3 separate regions of the Homo sapiens genome follow, and all the other regions are linked to region 3. The links come from fine-mapping of genetic effects on gene expression. A gene starts in region 3. Each other region holds a variant in brackets. All regions are shown on one strand. Distances are between the middles of the regions. Region 1 has its middle 88 kb from the start of POMZP3. Region 2 overlaps CCDC146 (coiled-coil domain containing 146). Region 3 holds the start of FGL2 (fibrinogen like 2).

What was found. PIP is the estimated chance that this variant, and not a neighbour inherited with it, causes the effect.
Region 1: its variant is fine-mapped to the expression of FGL2 in Th1/17 cells (Schmiedel 2018, PIP 0.95).
Region 2: its variant is fine-mapped to the expression of FGL2 in whole blood (TOPMed, PIP above 0.99).

What each region holds. Positions count from the first base shown.
Region 1 is chr7:76,711,584-76,719,903 of GRCh38, reverse strand. No RefSeq gene overlaps it. Among named protein-coding and RNA genes, the nearest start is that of POMZP3, 88 kb to the right of the region's middle. The variant G/AG (reference allele first, on the strand shown) is at 4,624.
Region 2 is chr7:77,234,202-77,242,521 of GRCh38, reverse strand. It overlaps CCDC146 (coiled-coil domain containing 146), which reads right to left. Exons shown (of 19, transcript NM_020879.3): 3 at 5,493-5,575; 4 at 622-831. All of the region lies in intron 1 of CCDC146-AS1 (CCDC146 antisense RNA 1), which reads left to right. Among named protein-coding and RNA genes, the nearest start is that of CCDC146-AS1, 10 kb to the left of the region's middle. The variant AGT/T (reference allele first, on the strand shown) is at 3,514.
Region 3 is chr7:77,195,783-77,204,102 of GRCh38, reverse strand. It overlaps FGL2 (fibrinogen like 2), which reads left to right and starts at 4,284. Exons shown (of 2, transcript NM_006682.3): 1 at 4,284-4,922; 2 at 7,118-8,320. The coding sequence starts at 4,310. The coding sequence ends at 7,824. The region is part of intron 2 of CCDC146 (coiled-coil domain containing 146); the gene reads right to left. RefSeq lists an enhancer at 1,145-1,194 and a silencer at 4,584-4,693.

The DNA of each region.
Region 1 (8,320 bases), 480 kb after region 3:
GAGGTGGGAATATGAGAAGGTGTTTTTGGTTTTTGGTTTTTATTTGGTCATAGTCTGTGCCTATGGTTCTCAAAATTTCTAATATGAATTCTTTAGAATATATGAACTATACCTATTCAAATTCTACAGCAAAATATTAATCTGCATGTCTAGGTATGATATAAGAGGAAAGTTTCATTTTTTCTTCATCTATATATTCTAATTTTTCCCCTATGACCATATGTTTCTAACATAAATATGAGTTATAAAATATTTATAATGATTTGTTGATCATAGTTGGAGTAAAGTTAGCAAATCTTAATGTAAACCTTTTAATACAGCTGAAATATTATCTCAGAGCTAGCATTATTGACAGGTCAATTTATTTTTTGTTTATGAAGATATTATTTCTAAAGAATATATCATGTTAAAGTTAATTTTGCTTTTGATCATGTAAAGCTAACTGACAAGACTGACTTGCACTCCCACTTCAGATAACTAAGACACAGAAAAAGCATTATAAAAAAAAAAACTCCAGACATTTGAAAGCAAGCTGAACTGGAATTTTTTATATTAATAGGAGGCAAAAGAATCATAGCATGAACTTTATGATTACCATAGCTTCCTAACTGGAGGCACTAGACCATTGTGATAACAATAGCACAAGGAAGAGTAGGGAAAAATAAGTAAACTATTATAAGTTTGATTAATGTGAAGTGATATAACAGTGCTTGGTGGTAGAATTGATAAATTAAAGATGAGTGCTTTAAACCTTAGAGCAAATACACACATATACACACACAGCTAACATATAAATCACTAGGGGAGACAAAATATAATTATAAAAAATATCGAATTAAAAGAAGGCAAAGGAGCAAAACAAAAACAAGAAAAAGACATAGAAAACTTACTTATCTAACTATCTAATTATTATTCATTACATTAAGTGTAAATGGATCAAACACTCCAAATAAAAGGCAGAGTTTATTCAGACCAGGTAAAACAGCAAGACCCAAATGTATGCTCATACAAGAAATTTACTTTAGGTAAAAAGAAACAGATAATTTACAATAACAGATGGAAAAATATATATTATACAGACACTAAGCATAAAACTTTTGGAATGATTGTATTGACATCAAAGTACACTACATTCCAAGGAAAATTGCCAAGGATAAAGAGGTAAATTTCATGATAACAAAGGTTTAAATAATCAAGGAAGAATAAAAATCTTTATTAACTTATCTAAATGTGTATGCATCTAATAAAAGAAACTCAAAGTACATGAAACAAATATTGATAGACCTGAATGAAGAAATAGACATATCCACATTGATAGTTGCAGATTTCAACATTCTTTTTCAATAAGTGATAGCATAAGTAGACAAAAATCAGTAAAGATACAGATAACTCAAAAATACTTGAGATAGTATTGAAAAATACTTCTAAATTGTATTTTTTAACAAGAAAGTTGAAAATACTATCAACCAACTTTACCTATTGCAACTGATAGGTCTATATAAAGCACTACTTAAGAGCAGGAAAAGATATATTATTTTTAGTGTACATAATACATCCTCTAAGTTATATCATAAACTTTTCAAGTGTGTTAAGAAATTAAAAATATTGATATATTATAAAACATGGTCTCTGAACACAAAATAATTATGTTAGGAATCAGTAGAAATATGTAGAAAATCAACAAATATTTGGAAATTAAACAATATCCCTGTAAAACATAATTTCTCATAAATAATTTGAACTAAATAAAAATAAGAACACAACTTTAAAATGTGTAGGATACAGGTAAGGCTGTTTCCTTAGAGGAAAATGTGTTGCTTAAAATGCTTTATAACCTGGAAAAATGAGAGCAAATTAAACTCAAAATGAGTTTAAAGAAAGGAAATATTGACTATAAGGGCAGAAAAATGATCAAATGGAAAGCAGGTAATAGAAAAATAAGTGAAAGCAAAATCTGGTTTTAAGAGAGATCTGGTCAAGAATAGGAGACAATGAAATAACCAGTATCAGGAACAAAGCAGTAGCTCTCACTACAGATCCTACAAACACTGAAAAGATAATAAGGGGCTATGATGAACAAATATATCCTACTAAAATTTCCAACTTTGATGAGATGTACAAATTCATTCAAAGGTACAAAATTTAAAAATTTGAGATAAAGGAAAAAAAAGAACAACCAAAGCCCTGTCCTAATATATAGATACATTGAATCCATAGTTAAGTTTTTCCTATAAACAGTAGTCTAAGCTCATATGGCTTAAGAGATTTCAGTCAATATCAATTATATACAAAGTCTTCTAGAAAATAGAAGAGGGGAAGAATCCCTGCTTATTTCACAAGATAAGCATGTGCTTGTATGAAAACCAGACCAATACCCCTCAAAAACACAGAATTAAAAATCCTTAACAAAATATCAAATATATACCAATTGAGGTATATCTCAGGAATAAACAGCTGACTTAATATTTGAAAAATAATCAGTGTAATCTAATATATTAACAGAATAAAAGAGAAAAACCACTTTATCATGTTAATATATGGAGAAACAAATTTTGAAAAAAGTGCAGCACTGTTACGGGAAGTCAGGGACCCTGAACGGAGGGACCTGTTGGAGCTGCGGCTGAGGAACATAAATTGTGAAGATTTCATGGACATTTATCAGTTCCCAAAATTAATACTTTTATAGTTTCTTAACGCCTGTTTTTACTGCAATCTCTGAATATAAATTGTGAAGATTTGATGGACATTTGTCACTTCCCTAATAATACTCTTATAATTTCTTATGCCTGTCTTTACTTTAATCTCTTAATCCTGTTATCTTCGTAAGCTGAGAATGTATGTCACCTCGGGACCACTATTGTAGAAATCTGATTGTAAAACATGTGTGTTTGAACAATATGAAATCAGTGCACCCTGAAAACGAACAGAATAACAGCGATTTTAGGGAACAAGGGAAGACAACCATAAGGTCTGACTGCCTGCGGAGTCGGGCAAAAAGAGCCATATTTTTCTTCTTGCAGAGAGCCTATAAATGGACATGCAAGTAGGAGAGATATTGCTAAATTGTTTTCCTAGCAAGGAATATAATACTAACACCCTAGGAAAAGAATGGAATCCCTGGGGGGTGGTCTATAAATGGCTGCTCTGGGAGTGTCTGTCTTATGCAGTTGAGATAAGGACTGAAATATGCCCTGGTCTCCTGCAGTACCCTCAGGCTTATTAGGGTGGGGAAGAAACCTCACCCTGGTAAATTTGAGGTCAGACTGGTTCTCTGCTCTCGAACTCTGTTTTCTGTTGTTTAAGATGTTTATCAAGACAATATGCGCACAGCTGAACATAGACCCTCATCAGTAATTCTGATTTTGCCCTTTGCCTTGTGATCTTTGCTTTACCCTTTGCATTGTGATCTTTATTGCCCTTTAAAGCATGTGATCTTTGTGACCTACTCCCTGTTTGTACACCCCCTCCCCTTTTCAAGTCCTTAATAAAAACCTGCTGGTTTTGTGGCTCGGGTGGACATCACGGACCTACCAATATGTGATGTCATCCCTGGAGGCCTAGCTGTAAAATTCCTCTCTTTGTACTGTTTCTCTTTATTTCTCAGGCTGACCTACACTTAGGGAAAATAGAAAGAACCTAGGTTGAAATACTGGGGGCAGGTTCCCCTGATACAGCACTCATTTAAGTTTAAAAATATCAGCATACTAGGCTTAGAGAAAAAATTTCTCAACCTAATGAAAGGTATGTATGTAAAACTTACAGTGACCATTATACTTAGTAGTGGAATTCTGAATGCTTCCTTCTATGATAGAGAACACGGCAAGATAGCTGTTTTCTCTAATTCTATTCAGTGTTATAGTGGAGGGTCTAGCCTGTGCAAGAAGAAAAGAAAAATGAAATAAAAGATACATATATTAGAAGGCATTAATAAAACTGTCCTTGTGAAGAGATGACATGATTGTGTATATAGGACATTATAAAGAATCATCATCAACAATAACCAAAATGTTTAAAATAAATGAGTTTAACAAGATCTTAGGATAAAAGAGCAATATATAAAAAGCAAGTGTATTTCTAAACTAGCAAGACATAATTAGAAAATACAATTTCAAGTAAAATATACCATTTATAATGGCATACAAAAACATGGAATATTTAGGAATACATTTAACAGAATATATTCAAGATGTACACAGTGAATAACTGAAAACACTGTTGGAACAATTAAAAGATACTTTAAATATAAGTGAAATGTAAATTAGTATATAGATGCTATACAATCCCAGTAAAAATTCAGTCATGCTTTTTAAAACAATTGACAAGCTGTTGAGTGCAGTGGTTCATGCCTGCAATCCCAACGTTTTGGGAAGCAGAGGCAGGTGACTTGCTTGACCCCAGGAATTTGACCAGCCTGGGGCAACATAGGGAGACCCCTTCTCTATGAAAAAAAAAAATTAGTTGGGAATGGTGTCATGGGCCTGTGATCCCAGCTGCTCAGGAGGCTGGGGTCAAAGGATTGCTTGAGCCTGGGAGGTTGAGGCTGAAGTGAGCTGCTATTGCACCACAGCACTCCAGCCTGGGTGACAGAGCAAGATGCTGTCTCAAAAAAAAAAAAAAAAAAAA[G/AG]GGAAAAAAAGAAAAGAAAAGCAGTGACAAACTGTTTCTAAAATTTTTATGAAAATGCAAACACCTAAAATAGCTGAAGCCATTTTCAGAAGGAAGTTGTATTGCCTTATTTTAATACTTATTTAAAAAGCTACAGTAATCAAAACAGTGTAGCATTGTTGTAAGGATTCAGGTAGATCAATGCAACAGAATTAAGAGTTTAGAAATAGACACTTTCATAGTAAATAGATTTTTTAAAAAAGATATTGCATTTATTCAATGGGGAAAAATAATCTTTTTAAAAAATTCCTATCCCTGTGGAAAAAATGAACCATAACCCATACCTCATGCCATACACAGAAATAAACTCAAAAACTTTAGAAAGCTTAAAATTTCCAGAAGAAAACATAGGACAAAATTATTGCGATCTTTTATTAGGTAAATGTTACTTAGATGAGATGCAAAAAACTGTAAATAAAAAGAACTGATAAGCTTGATTTCATCAAAATTAATACAGCACTTCTCTTCTTTGAAGACTACCATCAAGAAGATAAAAAGGCAACCTAAAGATGAGGTGGACATATTTGCATTGCATATATCTGACAAAGGACTTATATTCAAAATATAAAAATCATTCTTACAATTCAGTAAGAAAACTAGCAACCAGATTTTTTTTTAATGGGCAAAATAGTTGACTAAATATTTTACCGAAAAAGATACATTCATGACTAACAAACACAAAACAAGAGGTTCACTCTTTCTAGGCCTTACAGAAATAAAAGTAAAACCACAATGAGATATTGCTCTATACCTACTAGAATGGCTAAAATTAAAACTATTGAAAATAGCAAGTGTTTTCAAGGTTGTGGAGCAACTGTAAGTCTCATATGTTGCTGGTAGGAATATAAAATTGAATAGCCACTGGGGAGATCAGTTTGTCCATTTTTTGACAATACACCAAATCAACTCTACTACTAATTATTTACCTAAGAGACATGAAATTCCTTGCACTGAAATGTTTACAGAAGCTTTGTTTTCAATAGGCAAAAAAACCCTGTAGACCATACTAATGTCCATCAACGAGCGAGCAAGTGGGTGGAGAAACAAGATGTAGTATATGCGTATGATGAAATATTACTAACAGTTAAAAAAAAAAGACCACTAAGTTACCCCAACCACATGAACAAATATAAGAAGCATTATGGCAAGCTAAGGAAGCTGTGCACTACATGATTTTATTTACATGACATTCTAGATCAAGAAAAATTAATCTATAGTGACATAAAGCTTATCGTGATGTCTAAAGTAAAAGGTTGGAGAATGACAGCAAATAAATACAAGGGAAGTTTCTGGGTGATGGAAATGTTCTATGAACTTGATTGTGATGCTGATTACACTAGTGTTGTCAAAGCTCATCTAACTGTTATTCTAAGTAAATTTTATAAAAATTATACAAAAAACTTGATTAGAGAAGAGTATATTATTTAAACTCATAAAAGAGACAAAAAGAACTGTGTGATTTGGTGCTAGTCCCTTTTTCTCTATAGGTCATTTCCTTCTATGTTCCAAGAAGAAAAGTTCAATTAGAAAATATTCAAGACTCATCATATGACATGTTGCTTAAAAAATTATTACATTTTTCCTATTTTTATCTCCAGAGGAGAAAGCTTGATACAGAAAACAGAGATGGTCTTGGATCAGAATAAACATTTGGGTTCTCACACATTTGCCTGGTGAGAGAAAATTTAACCTTTTATGGTTGGAATTTCCTTATCTACAAAATTAGATGCAGATAAACACCTATACTTTATGAATTTGTTGTGAAAAACCAAGTGATCAAAAAAATTAATGTAAGTCCTTGGCCCTCAGAGGCTACTGAATAGATAAAAGTTCCCCTCCCCTTTCACTGCAGAAAATTTCAAGATTCAAAACCAAAGTAAAGTTAAATAGAATACCAACTATGTACCCTTATCAACTGAATCCTCCAGAGAGGACATTTGAGTTTCTATAAAAGATCTCATCTTCTACTAACTGTCTTTGCAGATGCTCTGAGTGTAGCACCTGTCATACTGCTGAGGGTGAGAAGACAAGCATTGTGGAATGGCACAGCAGTGGGAATAAGAGAGGCCATCCTAAGGGAGCCTTCACTTTGTGCTGGTTTCTCACGCTCAGTACCCTTGGACAGCTGAACCACATGAATCTTTTCTTACTCTCTGACTCAACGGAAGGACTCCCAAATGAGCTATAAAAGTTATTTAGTGCACTTTCTTGGGTATCTCATATGTGTAGTTGAATATAGGGCAGCGTAGGAAATTCACATTAAAAACAAAAAAACCTACTTTGATTTTGCTTTGGTTACCTTTCTTGTAAATTAAAAAATAAAATAAAATCCCTAGCCAGTTGCATCTATTGAAGCCCTGATGCCACAGGTAGAATGATTTAGTATCTTAAGACCCTTGTGGGACACAAAATGTGACATTTTCTTAGACACACAACAATATTTTCTTTATGAGCAAAGACTTAAGGCCTTTACCATATCACAAGAGGACAAAAGAGTTTAAATGAAACTTCAATGATAAACCAAACGAGGTCAGAAAAAGGTAGATATTTCCAAACTCAACTACCACCTATGGACAGAGAACATTTCACACCTAAGGTATCAGCCAACCACTGCCAATGGGGTACTTTAAATAACTCCTCTAGGGCCAATTTAAAAGGGTAAACATGAGAGAAGCTTTTATTAATGTTTCCCTTCATCACAAAAGCAATTTCCCACTGTCATCTGAGCTTTTTACGATGGCCCACTACCAGCACAAGCCATTTTAGTTTACCTCTGACTGTGCACAAGGCAGAAACGAAAACAAATCAAATAATTAAAATGGTCAAAAATATACCATTTCAAAATGGCTCAATTATTTTAAAAAATTTATAAGAGCCTGCTTTTCTGAAGAGGGAAAAATGCAAAGGAGGAACAGAGCAGTGGCTTTCTCTTCTTCTCCAAATAAGCCAAACAACCTAAAATCTTCTCTTCTAGGGATATTTCAAGGTCTTCTGCTGTGACTACTAAACCAGCTGTTCATATCTTCATCTTTCCACCTCTAAGTAATATCCTTAGTGATAATCATGGGTCCCAGTGCTTTTAGGACTAGAAAGCTTTCTGACTGATTAAAAAATTTATACTGGTTGATCATGGTGAGAAATGAAGATTCTCCTTATTCGAGTGTAAGAATAATGAATCAGCCTCTTGTTTCTCTGTTGAGGGCGGTATTGTTAGAAATTTGATTATAAAAGAAACTATGTGTTAACTATTGTAGGGTGGGTTCTGGCAGAAATAGGGTTAATTTTCTTTCCCCTGAGCCAGTAGCTCCCACACCTGTCAACCATCAAGGCTGGGCTTGCCAAGAACCTAGGAGTGAATGGGCATGGGCACAGCTGTAGCAAATTAGAGTATCCTGAGGAGGTCCAGCATAAAAGATGTGAACTTTTGCATGTCTCTGTGGGGTTTTGACTGATCCAACAACTATGTTGCTATGGGAATCAAGAGTGGTAGGAGCCTCAGAGGCTTAGCAATATATAATATGTATTCCCGTCCCTTAGCAATATATAATATATATTCCCTTCCCTTAGTAATAATATATAATATGTAAAATTGGATATGTGCTTATATTTGTGTGTGTATCTATTTTTCATAATGCCCTTTGGGATCACAGCACAGCAG
Region 2 (8,320 bases), 38 kb before region 3:
TTTCCCCTTTTAGCACTTAATGTCTGCTTTAGTTCACTAAATGACGTCCTCTAAATTTGGATAAGTAAATGTGTCTTCCAAAAGGATATACCTTTTCTCCTTGATCCTGAGGAACAATCTAGTAGTAGGAGATGAAGTTTGCATATGTGGTCCTGTTGCTGCTCTCTTAGAAGAATAGAGTGAGCCAGATGACATGTGACCCTCAGCTCATGGAGGCTTGTTTGGAAAATGCATGTGGGGAGAAGTGCTCACCATGCAGATGCGTGCTCTGGTACTGCTATAGTCATGGGATGAGGGGGCCACTGCCAGGGCAGGGGAAGGGCAAGGGAATGCTAATAACTGGTTTGGTGGAGTGTGTTCTCTGACTGCAGCTCTCAATGAGATGGCTTTCCTGACATGAAAAACACAGCAGGCATCTCTGTCACCTGAGCTTTTATTCGAGAAGTGTAACTTTCTTGTTCAGGGAATTCCCATTCCATTCTAAGGAATCAAGAGAACTAGGTTTGCAATCATCATCGTACTGCTATCTCCTACTCCTTCAATTACCTCCAACTTAATCTGATTTTTTTCTATTTATGAGGAAAAGACTTTTCAGTGTGCCGGAGAGAACTGTGCACTTACCTATTTAATCTGTACTGATTATGGAACTCTCTTTCCTTCACTGCATTATATTCATTTTGATACTTGAGAAGTTGTTCTCTCATTTTGGAGACCTCCGTGGAGAATGCTTCTGGAAAATTATCAGCTTGCTGCAGGTGAAACTGCTGCTGTTGTATTTGCTCAGTGAAACGTTTGGCATTCTGTAGCAGTTGGACCTCTGACTCTTGTGTGCTGGGTTACATGAAAAACAGAGACTCACATAATGAGACATGTACATCCTCGGTGGCTCCTGTGGGGGTCTAGTGAGGATAGCTGCTCCCCACTCCTCAGATCAACTCAACTCTGGGACATTTTTGTGCCAAGTCAGTTGACCCTTCATGTCCGTGAGTCCACATCTGTGGATTCAACCAACCACGAGGGAAAATTTTTGTTAAAAAATTGAGTCTGCTTCACCTTTGTGGTATTCTCCTCCAAAACACCTAACTCTGGCCTAAATATGAGAAAAATTCCAAACTGAGAAATGCTCTATAGAATACCTGACTGGCACTCTTAAAACTGTCAACGTGGCCGGGCGCGATGGCTCATGCCTGTAATCCCAGCACTTTGGGAGGCCGAGGCAGGCGGATCACAAGGTCAGGAGATCGAAACCGTTCTGGCTAACACAGTGAAACCCCGTCTCTACTAAAAATACAAAAAATTAGCTGGGCATGGTGGCGGGCGCCTGTAGTCCCAGCTACTCGGGAGGCTGAGGCAGGAGAATGGCGTGAACCCAGGAGGCGGAGCTTGCAGTGAGCCGAGATTGAGCCACTGCACTCCCGCCTGGGCGACAGAGTGAGACTCCATCTCAGCCGAGATTGAGCCACTGCACTCCCGCCTGGGCGACAGAGTGAGACTCCATCTCAAAAAAAAAAAACCCAAAAAAACAAACAAACAAACAAACAAAAAAAAACAAAAAATGTCAACGTGATTTAAAAAAAACAAGGAAAGACTGAGAAATTGTCACAGAGATCAAGGAGAGATGAGGGCTAAATATAGTGGGGTATACTGCATTGGGTCCTGGAACAAAAAAAAGAGCATTAGTGGAAAAACTGTTGAAAATCTGAAGTTTAATTAATAGTAATATACGAATGTTAACTTCCTAGTTTTGATGGACCATGGTTATGTAAGATGCTCCCATTAGAGGAAAATGGGTGAAGGATAGACGGGAACTTCGTATATTATTTTTGCAACTTTTCTATGAATCTAAAATTATTCCAAAATAAAATGTTTACTTAAAAATTGTTTATTTACTGAACATGTACAGACTTTTCTTGTCATGATTGCCTAAACAATACAGCATAACAACCATTTACATAGCATTTATATTGTATTAGGTATCACAAGTAATCTAGAAATGATTTAAAGTATACAGGAGGATGTGATTAAGTTACATGCAAATACTATACCATTTTATATCAGGGACTGGAGTATCCATGGATTTTGGTATCTGCAGGAGGTCCTGGAATCAATCCCCCAAGGATACCAAGAGATGACTGTACTATGCTAGGTGCAAGAGGTGAATAAGGCTTAGCTCCTAGCTTCAAGAATCTTACAATCTGGCAGATGCGGAGGAATACCAGATGACAAGTACTACCGCTGGTGTCCAGATCAAGACAGCAGGAGACAACAGAGAAAGGATCACTCAATGGGAATGTGACATTTGAACTTGACTTTGAAGAATGATTATGACTTACTAGAAGGGGATAAATGATACGGAAAGAGGAGGTTTTCCCTTGAACTCCCCAAACAACCCTAGCTCTCTTGAATTCTTGTAACATAATTGTAGGAAAATCTCTCCCCACTTAGTGAACTATGAAAAAACAGAAACTTTTCTAATGGCACTTTATTAGGAAACTAGGAAGAGAAATTCCCATACGCAATTATGAATATAAATAAATTTACAGATTTCTGATTCTAAATTGGACACTGGTTAGAGCTGGATGGACTTGAAGGTCACGGTAGAGGGAGATTCCTACAACCCCAGTTATATTCTATGACCTTGGCCCTATGTAGGGAAAAGGACTAAACATCTGTCAGAGGATGTAGAAAAAGGACATGGCGGAATCTCCAGTATCTTATAGAACTCCTCTATGCTGCAAGCTAGCATCAGCAAGCATCGGCTCCAACCTTACCAGTAGATATGATTCCTCTTTCCCAGAAACCCTTATATTAGCTACCTCTCCTATTTGAAGTAAGCCCTCACCACTTCCTGTTTTAGAGCCAGAGCTCTCTTTTGATGTATGCTCCCCACCAACTGTCCTCACCAAGATAAATCTTCAAGTTCCAGCTCATTTGCAGAGACGCCCAATGACTTGATCAAGCCAATCTCAACTGAAGTTACCTTGTGTCTGCCTCACCTTTGTGATATTCTCAATTCAGTACAGATACATCCATTTTCCCAGGTTTTATAATGTCATTTGCTCAATAGCATCTAGCAAAACATTTACTGGGACATAACACGTTCCAGGCATGATGTTAGGTACCAAATAGCAACAACAATAGCTACAGTGATACCTCAAATAATTTTCATTAATGAAAGCTGGAATTATTCTCCTATAATTCAATTTTCATGTATGCTAATAAACTTTGTAAATCTAAAGTTATCTGGTCTCCTTAATAGGTCAGGCTTCAGCTATTGAAATTGTAAGCTGTTGGACCAGGCTACAGTGCCTGTTTTTGCATAGAAAGGACAGGGTGGTAGGGTTCCAGCCAGAACACAAATCGCAACTTACCCACATGTATTTAAAACATGATACCAGTAGAAGAGACTTTAACAACTCTTATAACATGGTTTCTATGGAAGACTCATTCAGTTTCAGTTCAATATTTCCAGGCTATATCTGCCCAGCTGTAGTCCTAGCAGCACGAATGAAG[AGT/T]CTACTTCATGTTTTTCCCACCCATCAGGCATTGGGAGTAGGAGAGAATGGTGAGTATTTGCAATGGCATTAGAGGGAACTAAGTGGTCAAGATGTAAAATGTGGGTAGCAGAAGGGAAGTTAACTGTTTTGCAACACAACCTGGAAGAGGAAGAAATAGTGCCATAGCTGAGGTCCTGCATTGCTACTTGTCATTAGGGGCCAGGGAACTGAGTTGTGGGCCAGGGGAGGAGGAAGTTAAGTCAAAGCACCCTGCAAATCTCCACTGGGCTCTAGATAAGAGCTATCCAGGCTGGGCACGGTGGCTCACGCCTGTAATCCCAGCACTTTGGGAGGCCGAGGCGTGAGGATCACAAGGTCAGGAGATTGAGACCATCCTGGCTAACCCAGTGAAACCCCATCTCTACTAAAAATACAAAAAAATTAGCTGGGTGTGGTGGCGGGCTCCTGTAGTCCTAGCTACTCAAGAGTCTGAGGCAGGAGAATGGCGTGAACCTGGGAGGCGGAGCTTGCAGTGAGCCAAGACCAGGCCACTGCACTCCAGCCTGGGTGACAGAGGGAGACTCTGTCTAAAAAAAAAGAAGAGCTATCCAGAGGGCAGGAAACACTGATATTCCTTGTATCTGCAAAGAGGATTGGAGGGATGCCCAGAGAACTGCATGGCATTTCCTCTCAGTTAAGCAGTGTGAAGTATGTTGTAAAAGATTACTCCAGACTTTCCACTTAAAGTCTCAAAATTCCTGAGCCTTGAGAACTCTGAGAACACACTGGCAGGCGTGACCAGCTACGGGGGAATGGAACCTCCATTAGGTGTGGGGGTGAGGACTTGGCTTGGGCTTGAGGATGAGGAACCAAGGCTGGGGGCTTTGGAGGGGTGTGAGGAACCTGGGTGCACTTGAAGTTTGCATAGGAATGCAGCTCTGCTCTTTTCCAAGTTGTTCACTCTTCCCTCATGCTTTTACCCTCAAAGTAGCCAAATATCTCTGGGCAAGATAAGAAGGAGGGGAAGTGATTGGGAATTGCGGGGAGAGGATGGCTGGGGAGTGGCAGCATGGAGTTTCTATCTGTTGCTGTTGCTCCTTGGCTTTTGATGAAGATACAATGCAAGGCCCTGAGACAAGAGGTGGGGGAAGGAAAGAAAGAGGCTTGGGAGTGGTAAAGAATCACAGCACATTAGGGTTTTCCCTCTTTCTTCACTCCCCTGCCCTCTTAATTCCCAGTGGCTAATAGCCAGTGCTCAGGCAGGCTTGCTGGACTCTTCTATGATAGCCTGTTCTTCTGACCTGTTGGTGATTGGGACTTGCAAGGTGTAAGTAGCTTGTGATATGGGGAGGAGGTGAGAAGTACAGACAGGGTCTCAGCAGACTCAAGCTGGGGTTGTTGGAGAATCTACACCTCTGAGTGATGAACAGACACGGGAGAAGAGTCCTGCAGGTGTGTCCTATGCAGAGACTGTCAGTGTCCCACCAGAATCCTTTTGCCCACCTGCAGCTTTAGTGGACAGTTACCATATGTATCAGCAGCACCTGTGTCCCTCCGCCTGAGAGCTGTCTCTGGCCATCAAAGTTTGCTTGGTTTGTCAAAGCGCAAGCTGGAAGTGCCAAGAGCTAATCTCCCTGGAAGTAATTTGTAATAAATGAGTGGTGGAAACTGGTGGGCAAATATTCCAGTTTCCTCACTCTTCAGTGGGAGAGTGCTGAGGTGAGCCACTCAGAGGCTCCTCTGTGAGGCTGAGCCCCAGTAGCCCATCATATAAACTCGCAGATGTACACGGCCTGATCAAGGCTAGATTCCTTCCTTCCCAGTCGCACTTCCCCACTCTCTCACGATGCTTTCTCGTACCACTTCTCAAACTCCCTGAACGCAAATCCTTGCCTCAGGGTCTGCTTATGGGGGAATGCAAATGAAGACAGGTCTCATCACCAGTAAGAAATTTAAAGGTGATTAATCATGTCTCCATATTGGTAAATTGCATACCTCATCACGGCGTCATGCAGCAAGGTATACTTGGCTTTTAACGCTGCCATTCTGGTTCCAGGAAGTTTTCCCATAGCATGTAACTAGCAAAGAGAACATAAGGTCACTGTTAATCACCATTCTCTTTAGGCTTAAGCAGGGGATGGAATGGATATATGGTTATCTTATAAAATCCTCCATTAAACATTAGAGGATACACGAGGCAATGTAGTGTACTGGAAACATGCCAGGTGTTTGGAGAAAATAGTGCTAGTTCTATTCTGCCCCCAGTACATTCTGTGTCCTCAGGCAAGTCTTTTCAACTCCCTAGGCTGTTATTTCTTTGTCTGGAAATTGAGAGGATTGAGTTAAATTCTTCTAACTCTAAAAAAAATTTCAAGGTTTAACAAACAATCTGAATAGTGTAGATTATAGGTTGGCTATTTGTAAGTTGAGAAAATGAATGGTTATTGAACAGCTATTAGAGTATGTGTTGCCCATCAGTTATTTCATTCTTAAAAATGTTGTGAAATAAAGATTATCATCTCCATTTGAAACTAAAGTTTAGAAAAATGATTTGTTCAAGGTTATAGAGCTAGTTAAAGGCAGGGTGAGAATTTAAACCCAAGTGGTTCAGCTCCAAAAACCCACGATCACTCCCCTGTACCGTGATGCCTTTGCCTCTGCTGTCAAAGAAGCATGGAAAGTTTTCCAATGCATAAAGAGGTACTATTTATTCCCATTTTATTTCTAGTTAAAATGACTTTTGATCTGTTTTCTGAGTTAGGTGATAATTAGTTAACAGACATCATAAAACATCGTCAAACACTAAAGTTTTACCATCCTAAAATCATAATGCAATGAGCATTTGTATTAGGTTTGACTTCAACTGCTAGTGACAGTATCAAAATAGAACTAAAGAGAATATTTGTGTTTTTCAGCCCTGTTGTTCTTACATTTATTTATTTATTTATTTATTTATGACGGAGTCTCACTCTGTCGTCCAGGCTGGAATGCAGTGGTGCAATCTCGGCTCACTGCAACCTCTGCCTCCCGGGTTTAAGTGATTCTCGTACCTCAGCCTCCCAAGTAGCTGGGACCACAGGGGCACACCACCACGCCCAGCTAATTTTTTGTATTTTTAGTAGGGATGGGGGTTCACCATGTTAGCCAGGCTGGTCTTGAACTCCTGACCTCAGGTGATCCACCCACCTTGGCCTCGCAAAGTGCTGAAATTACAGGCGTGAAAGCCTGGCCCTTACCTCTAAAGTGCTTATTGAATTCATCCACTTTCCTCTTCCTTCCCTGATCCCACTGGCCCAAGTCTCATCATCTCTCAATTGGACCACTACTAAACCTCCTAACTGCCCTTCTGCCAGGGAGATCTTTTTAAAAATCAGACAAGGTTATGTTATGCTGGGTGATCAAAACACTTCAAGTGGAATAAAATTCAAGACCCTTGGTATTCAAGACCTTGAGGTCCTGCCTGACCCCAACACCCCCACAGCCTCCTTTCACAACACACTCTTTAAGCTCCCAGTGCTTCATTGCTTCTGCCACACTGGCTGCCTTTGATTTCCACAGATGTATGAGTCTCTCTTTTTCTCCAGGGCCTCTGATTAGTCATTCCTTACTCCCCCTACTTCACTCCAAGTCTTTCTTCATGTCTCAGCTTAAATATGAATTCATAAGAAGGCCTTTTCTGACTTCCAAATCTAAAGAAGATAACCACGTGTACTTGCTCCTACCTCTAAAGAACGCTGAGCTTCATAACATTACAATCTGCAAGAATAAATTTACTTACATTATTAAAAACATTTTTATACTTCCCCAGCTAGTATATAAGACCTATGAGGAAAGGGCCCAGATTACCTTGTCCTTCACTGTATCCTCAGCCAAAGTATTACTAGAATCCCAGGCACAGTATAATCCCAGGCACAGTATACCCAGGTGCTAGGTAAATTGCTTATATTTGTTAGCAAATGAATGAATGCAGCTATCAAAATGCAAAAGTCTGAGTCTATACAGTGGGGTTTCGTGGTCTTTCTACCCGCATCAGGGTAGAAAAATGTTAAATGCATTATGAAACCATTTCTTCTTTGTGAAAGTGTTGGGGATCTTTCATGAGGGCCATACTATCTGGTGCCAGGCCTGGCTTCCAATCCCTACAACCCTCATTATTTTTTTAATCTATGGGTGAAATATGGTGAACAAGATCTTTAAGACCTTTGAGGATACTCTACCTGTATCAAATATCTTAAAATCTATTCATATGCCACCTTAAATATAATTTATTTATAACTTTTTTTTTCCCCAGAGATGGATTGTCGCTCTGTTGCCCAGGCTGGAGTACAGTGGCGCTATCTTGGCTCACTGCAACCTCTACCTCCCGGGTTCTAGCAATTCTCCTGCCTCAGCCTCCCAATTAGGTGGGACTACAGGCGCATGCCACCACACCTGGCTAATTTTTTGTATTTTAGTAGAGATGGGGTTTCACCATGTTGCCCAGGCTGGTCTTGAACTCCTGAGCTCAGGCAACCCACCCGCCTTGGCCTCCCAAAGTGTTAGGATTACAGGCGTGAGCCACTGCGCCCGGTCTATTTGTAACTTTTTAACTGTTGAGTTGCTGTTGGTAAGTCGACTTAATGTTACATTTTACAGATATTTATTTTGGTTCTGCAGTATTTTTTAGCCAATATATAATTTATTTCATGTTTCAAACATTTTCATTGGTTTCCCAAAGTATACAGACCATAGTTACTATGGCTTTAAAATCTAATAAGTTAAAAAAAAAAAAAGCCTTTACAAATGGACACACTTAAAGGAGAAAAGTTGCTGGGAAAAGATTA
Region 3 (8,320 bases):
CTATAAATACGACTATCATTAAATTTACTTTCTTCTTTTAGTACAAATAGAAACACAAAGGGTTTCCTTGAAAAAAAAAACTGTATTAGGGGAAACAAAAATTTACTTTAGGAATCTGATCCAGTTATAGAAAATGCAGATCTTCTCTTAAATATACTTTGTGTAAGCAAAAAGGAAGTCTGAACATGTGAATATAGACTAATGAAAGTAAAATTTCATATGCGGCTTATAGAAATAAATTTTGCTACTTTAAAATCCCACCATGTATTGGTGTTAAATAATTTGCTTAAATCTAAAAACAAGTCTGTAAGTGAGTGTAATGTGTCAGTGCTGGGTCAAGGACAGATTCAGGGTAGTAAGGAAGATTCTGACACCGCCATGAGGAATAAGCAGCCGATACTAGGAGTCAGGGTAGACTCAGCATGAGAGAATCCAGAAGGGCTTTCAGCAAGAGAGAAGAGGCAGAAGGTCAAGTCATGAGGTGGGAACTCCTAGTAGTGAAGGACAAGTCAGCTCTTCAGGTTTCGATTTTCTGATGGCCTAGTCCTGCTTGAAACCCTCCCTTTTCCTGGTATTCATGACGCTCCTGTACTCTCCTGGTTCTCATCCTATTTCTTTGACCATCTTTTTGATTCCCGTGATTTCAAATTAACATCCACATCTATTCTGTGTCAATATTCATACCTAGATGTGCCACCACTCTTTGCTTGATATTTGCATTTGGTGGCTTGTCAATGCTTAAAACCCAGTGTACTGAAAACAGAAATACTACTACACTCTCCCCAACCTACTGCTACCTCTGTCATTAGCATGCTATCATTTAACTGCAATCAGAGGCAAATTTCAGAGTTGTCCCTCTCTTTCCAGTTCTCACCACTTATCAGATCCCATGGCTTCTATCATGCCTTGGTAATAATGCCTCCATCTCCTTTCCTACCCCTCCTGCCTCCACACTGGTTCACCTCTTATCTAGTGCCTGCTACCACACTACTAGCTCTCACCTAAAATGCCATTTCCCACTGATTTGCAGCAGAAGATTCATTCCTAAAATAGTCCTGGGGGGGGGGGGGGCAAGTATTTTATTTTCCTTGCTCAAAAACCTTTAGTGGCTCTCCATTGATCTAAGCATTGCTTTAAGCACAGGCTCTCCACATAGTTCTCACATACCCTCCCCATGTTATCTTTCCTCCTACGTGGCAATGTGGCAAAGAGAAAAGATATGAACTTTGAATCAGATACAGGTTCAAATTCCAGCTGTCTCTTAAAAACTCTAAAACAGAAACTGAAAACTGTAAAATGACCAGACAAGTCATTTATTGCTTTGAGCCCTTTCTTTGCTCATCTGCAAGTGCAGGGAGGAACCGTAGAGGCGGTACAACACTCTCTGCCCTCCATGAGTTATACACTCATTAGGGGAGTTGAGCCTCTTTTCATGCAGTAGTCACTTAGCATCTGCCTTCCAGTCAGTGGCCAAATGACTTTCTAAACCGAGAACCTAGCAGGTCACCTGTCAGTGTCAATGAAACTGGTCAACAGAGGAGTTCTCTACCCTTATGTCAGGGAATTTTTTATGCATTCTGAAGGGACAGAAGCCAGTTCTCAAAGCACATCCAAGCTTTTTAGGGGAAACTGTGCCATTGGCCCTTGGTTAACTGGGGTGTGACCAGCCAAAAATTAGCAGCAGTGCTTGACACGCACATTTCTGATTCAAACAGATGAACCAAAAGCCCACTGCAAGAGTCCAAAAGCTGTACTTCTGTTAGGTTTAGAAACTTTAAAAAGTACTTAAGATTTCATTTCAAAGTCCAACGTGAAGAAAATACCAGGTCTTTAATGCCCCTTTCTAAGAAGGAAAAAGGGATTTTTGTCTGATTTGTTCACCAGTGTGGCCCAAGTGCCTAGAATAGCGGTTTTGCATGCAGAGGGTGCAGAGTCAATTTATGATGAATAAATATATAGTATATCAATATATGTATGAGGAATAAATGAATGAAAGTGCCTGTGGCACGCATCTTATATATGCTCTAGCATAGTGCTGAGTATACAGAAGATCCTTAATAAATACTTTACTAACTAAATGCAGGGATTTATACTCTAGTCAGTCAAGGACATTTCACAATATCCTTAAGGACTAGGAACTAAATATCATTCCTATATATTTCTACTTTACAAAATGGTTTTTTTTTTTATCTATGTTGTCATCATGTCTCCTTTTTAAAATTATCTATTGTTTCATTTATTTCTTACCTCCCAACAGGGAAGTGTCACAGCTTGAAAATAGGTGAGAAGAAATGAGGTTAGGAGTTAGGGGATTAAATAGATATTTTTAGCTAAAAAGTTTTTGTCTAAAATTGGATATATTGAATGGAATGAAGAGAAAAACAATTTTTGAAAGAGCTATATGAAGATGGAAGAAAAAAAGTCATAAGGTGTGTAGAACATGTTTGACAAATTTATTTGGGAAGAATGTTACATTTATACACTGCATTTTTTTTTTTCTTAAGTGCTCTAAGTTTTTTTTTTCTTTTTTTGTGAGGGGTGGGGCTGGGGGATGGAGTTTCACTCTTATTGCCCAGGCTGGAGTGCAGTGGTACGATCTAGGCTCACTGCAACCTCCACCTCCTGGGTTCAAGTGATTCTCCTGCCTCAGCCTCCCGAGTAGCTGGGATTACAGGCACACGCCACCATACCTGGCTAATTTTTTTTTTTTTTTTTGTATTTTTAGTAGAGATGGGGTTTCACCATGTTGGCCAGGTTGGTCTCAAACTCCTGATCTCAGGTGATCCACATGCCTCGGCCTCCCAATGTGTTGGGATTACAGGCGTGAGCCACCACGCCCAGCCAAGTGCTCCAAGTTTGCATGACTATCATTCCTGTATGAGGGAAGAAATAGCTAAATTCCTCCGCTACAGCTACAGGAACAAAGGCTCATTAAAGCTGATGATCTGTTTACATGATCAGAGGTAGATCTAGGGTTGGAAGCCAGGTCTCCTGAGTATGCGAGAATAAATACAGTCATGGAAGAGTAAAGAGTCTGCCAACATTTTGAGAATGTGAATAGGATTTGGCTAAAATTAAGGGGATATACAGAAAAGTCATAGGAAATCAGGTTAAAGACATAAATATGAGATAGGCTACAGAGTGTTTTAAGTAATACAATAAAACATTTAGATTTTTGCCCATGTCAGTCATTTTGAAATTATTTTTAAAGCAAAAAAACCCTTTTTAAACAAGAAATCTTATGAGATGTCAATATGCAAAACAAATTAAAAGGAGGTGGTTTCTCTAACTGAAGCTGTTCCTCTTTCCTGCCTTCAGCCTCTGAAGAGAAAGTTAGAAAACTATTATCATTAATGCTACATGTTTTGAACAAGCTGATATACCAAGTGGCCCAGAGAGCAGGTAGAAGAACCAGCGTGGAGACAGAAAGCAAGAGGCCCGCCTGCCAGGGCTACCTGCAGAAAGAAAGGGCAAAGATGCTGTAGGCAAGAGAAGTTCAGGACAGACACTGGCATAGCTCAAAGATTCACATTTGAGCAGCTGTGGAAGATGACAGTACAATTACCAAAATGTCGAAGGGCAAAGGAGGCAGCTACTGGTTTTGATGAAAGACAATTATGTCCTTTTAAATGGGTCTTAGACATTTAGACATTAATATACACTATGCTACGGACAAAGGAATAGAAAGTAGCACTTTTTTCTCCACTAGTTTTCTTCTCTTTTTCAAGTAGATGAAGCAAAAGTCAACTGCAATAGTCAGAAAGCTGTACTTTGTTACACTTAGAAACTTCTAAAAGTGCTTAAGATTTCACCTGAAAGTCCAACATGAAGAAAATACAGGCTCCCCAATGCCCCATTCTAAGAAGGAAAAAGGACCATTTTCATTTTAGTAACGTTTCTGTTCTATAGACAGTTTGGATAACTAGCTCTTACTTTTTATCTTTAAAAACTGTTTTTCCAGTGAAGTTACGTATAATTATTTACTTCAAGCGTAAGTATACCAAATTACTTTAGAAATGCAAGACTTTTCTTATACTTCATAAAATACATTATGAAAGTGAATCTTGTTGGCTGTGTACATTTGACTATAATAATTTCAATGCATATTATTTCTATTGAGAGTAAGTTACAGTTTTTGGCAAACTGCGTTTGATGAGGGCTATCTCCTCTTCCTGTGCGTTTCTAAAACTTGTGATGCAAACGCTCCCACCCTTTCCTGGGAACACAGAAAGCCTGACTCAGGCAGCTGCCGCTATTAAAGCAGCTCCAGCCCTGCGCACTCCCTGCTGGGGTGAGCAGCACTGTAAAGATGAAGCTGGCTAACTGGTACTGGCTGAGCTCAGCTGTTCTTGCCACTTACGGTTTTTTGGTTGTGGCAAACAATGAAACAGAGGAAATTAAAGATGAAAGAGCAAAGGATGTCTGCCCAGTGAGACTAGAAAGCAGAGGGAAATGCGAAGAGGCAGGGGAGTGCCCCTACCAGGTAAGCCTGCCCCCCTTGACTATTCAGCTCCCGAAGCAATTCAGCAGGATCGAGGAGGTGTTCAAAGAAGTCCAAAACCTCAAGGAAATCGTAAATAGTCTAAAGAAATCTTGCCAAGACTGCAAGCTGCAGGCTGATGACAACGGAGACCCAGGCAGAAACGGACTGTTGTTACCCAGTACAGGAGCCCCGGGAGAGGTTGGTGATAACAGAGTTAGAGAATTAGAGAGTGAGGTTAACAAGCTGTCCTCTGAGCTAAAGAATGCCAAAGAGGAGATCAATGTACTTCATGGTCGCCTGGAGAAGCTGAATCTTGTAAATATGAACAACATAGAAAATTATGTTGACAGCAAAGTGGCAAATCTAACATTTGTTGTCAATAGTTTGGATGGCAAATGTTCAAAGTGTCCCAGCCAAGAACAAATACAGTCACGTCCAGGTATGTATAATAATGTTTTCTTATCATATGTTCATAAATGTTATACAGCTAGAGAGTATCTATAAACATTAACCTGAGTCAGTAAGTTAAATAGATGACAGATTAAGTCTTTTATTTATCAAGGTGCACAGGAAAAAATAAATATCTTCTCAAATATGACCACATAAATATGACCTAATTACAAAAATCATAGTTAGTTCTGTATCCACTGGAAGTCACTTTCAATTTTAAGATCTTATTTGTTAATGCCAGACCTACTTGCAAGCAGAAGTAGAGAGAATTTCTTGATGTTTTAGTGCATTTAACTTGTCTCTTCAATGAGGTGTTTGAAAACAATAAAGATAAGGCGATGTTCACAATTGTGCCTTGTTTGTTGGAAATCAGTTTTTCTTGTGATTGACTGACTGCCGCTTCTCATGGCTAAAGAGGTCTTTGAAAGATTTTAGCAAGTAATCTAGTTCTTAATCCCAAATATCTGGAGAAAATGGGAGAGTTTACAGATGGAATAAAAGCAGTTTCATATGTGTGCACAAATTTTTGCTTTGAGACCTAGTGGCACAAAAAATATTTTAAGGGGAGAGTTTTAGCATGCCACTAAGGGAAGGTATTCATATTTCTTTCTCTTTTACCTGAAGTTAGAATTCAAGCAGATAGAAGTAGAACCCATCCTCACCATCCAAATTACTTGAATTAACTTTAATAAATACATGTGAAATTCCACAGACTTAATCGCCTACTCCACCCACGAACTAACAGTGGTATTGACTCTCCAAACCTTGGCTTTTCACCTGAGTCACTGGGACCACTGTTGCTGACTGTCTCATACTTTGGAAAGCCATCTCCGCATTTGGACCTCTACTTACCATGAACGTGAGGTTGAAAGGACAGGGCGGAGATCACTTTCATTTAGAGACAGTATCTCAGGCATGCTCCATCCCCAGGGCATCTGCCAGTGAAGGAGGGAAGGGTCATATTTTCAAGGACCTCTATTGGTAATACTCCTGGCAGCCTGCATCTGAATGTACCTGGCACACTGCGAATCCAAGGTTCACCGCTTAGGTGACATCAGTGGGTATACATTAGATTAGATGCTGCATGGCAACTTGTCATGATATGAAGACTATTGTCTATTTTTCTCCTAAACATTTTGGGTGAAATAACTGAATATTCTGAGCTCTAAATATACAGGAATAGATTTTTATGCCTTAGGGTATCTCATATTAAACTTACCTTATTTGTCACACATTTTAATAAAAACTATCTGGGAGTAAATATCTGTCTGATTCATACAGAACTTTGTTAACTGATTATTATGCTTATCCTCAATATAGTCACCTGTTGTTTCTTTCTAGAAACCCAACATGTGAAATAGTGGCTAAATACTTTCCTAGATAATAAATACAGAATAAGAATATTGGTGTGTCATTGAAAAAGATACTTCTTTTTCACTTGAGCTTCTTTATATAGTTGTCAAGTGAAATGAATATGAATTTATGATCAATCCTATGCATTAGGATTTTAACACATCATTTGGAATATATGCTATAAAACCTTCTGACAGTAGAGGCTATCAGCCCCTTTAGGTGAAAGAAAATAGAAGCCTGTGCTTCCTCTGTATGCAAGGAATACAGTTCTAGGAGAGTTAGAATCATCTGATTTTTAGGACCAAGGGATGCAATGATTACGAGAACAAAGCTTTGCTGCCAGCCAGATCTGAGTTAGTGTCCTGGCTCTGCCACTTAAAGCTCAGGTGAAGGTGGGCAAGCCACTGATCTTTATGCCTAAATATCCTCACATGCAGACTGGCAGTAACGCCTACATCATAAGGTCAATGTTCAGATTCAGTGTGAAAATGTTACCCAGTCTGGCAGCATGCCTAGAACGTATAGGTAGGCCTCACTACATAATACTAAATTATTAAAACTGTACTTTTATTATTTTCTTATTGTCGTTTGCTGTTGATGCTGTCATTATTACTACCAACCAAGAGTATATTAGAGGTCCTTTCTGCTTTATAACATTAGGTTCTTCTTGTGAGGCCTTAAGCATTTGCTAAACAGGTTCAAGTAAGTTTAGTAAAGTTTCATTACTGCCATTGATTCAATTATCAAACTGCTTTTGTACATATAAAGAATTCTTCAGATGCATGGTTTCTATTAACAAGATCCAATGCCTTCCTTTTATTTCCCCTTCAGTTCAACATCTAATATATAAAGATTGCTCTGACTACTACGCAATAGGCAAAAGAAGCAGTGAGACCTACAGAGTTACACCTGATCCCAAAAATAGTAGCTTTGAAGTTTACTGTGACATGGAGACCATGGGGGGAGGCTGGACAGTGCTGCAGGCACGTCTCGATGGGAGCACCAACTTCACCAGAACATGGCAAGACTACAAAGCAGGCTTTGGAAACCTCAGAAGGGAATTTTGGCTGGGGAACGATAAAATTCATCTTCTGACCAAGAGTAAGGAAATGATTCTGAGAATAGATCTTGAAGACTTTAATGGTGTCGAACTATATGCCTTGTATGATCAGTTTTATGTGGCTAATGAGTTTCTCAAATATCGTTTACACGTTGGTAACTATAATGGCACAGCTGGAGATGCATTACGTTTCAACAAACATTACAACCACGATCTGAAGTTTTTCACCACTCCAGATAAAGACAATGATCGATATCCTTCTGGGAACTGTGGGCTGTACTACAGTTCAGGCTGGTGGTTTGATGCATGTCTTTCTGCAAACTTAAATGGCAAATATTATCACCAAAAATACAGAGGTGTCCGTAATGGGATTTTCTGGGGTACCTGGCCTGGTGTAAGTGAGGCACACCCTGGTGGCTACAAGTCCTCCTTCAAAGAGGCTAAGATGATGATCAGACCCAAGCACTTTAAGCCATAAATCACTCTGTTCATTCCTCCAGGTATTCGTTATCTAATAGGGCAATTAATTCCTTCAGCACTTTAGAATATGCCTTGTTTCATATTTTTCATAGCTAAAAAATGATGTCTGACGGCTAGGTTCTTATGCTACACAGCATTTGAAATAAAGCTGAAAAACAATGCATTTTAAAGGAGTCCTTTGTTGTTATGCTGTTATCCAATGAACACTTGCAAGCAATTAGCAATATTGAGAATTATACATTAGATTTACAATTCTTTTAATTTCTATTGAAACTTTTTCTATTGCTTGTATTACTTGCTGTATTTAAAAAATAATTGTTGGCTGGGTGTGGTAGCTCACGCCTGTAATCCCAGCACTTTGGAATGTCAAGGCAGGCAGATCACTTGAGGTCAGGAGTTTGAGACCAGCCTGGCCAAACATGTGAAACGCTGTCTCTATTAAAAATACAAAAATTAGCCGGGCATGGTGGTACATGCCTGTAATCCTAGCTACT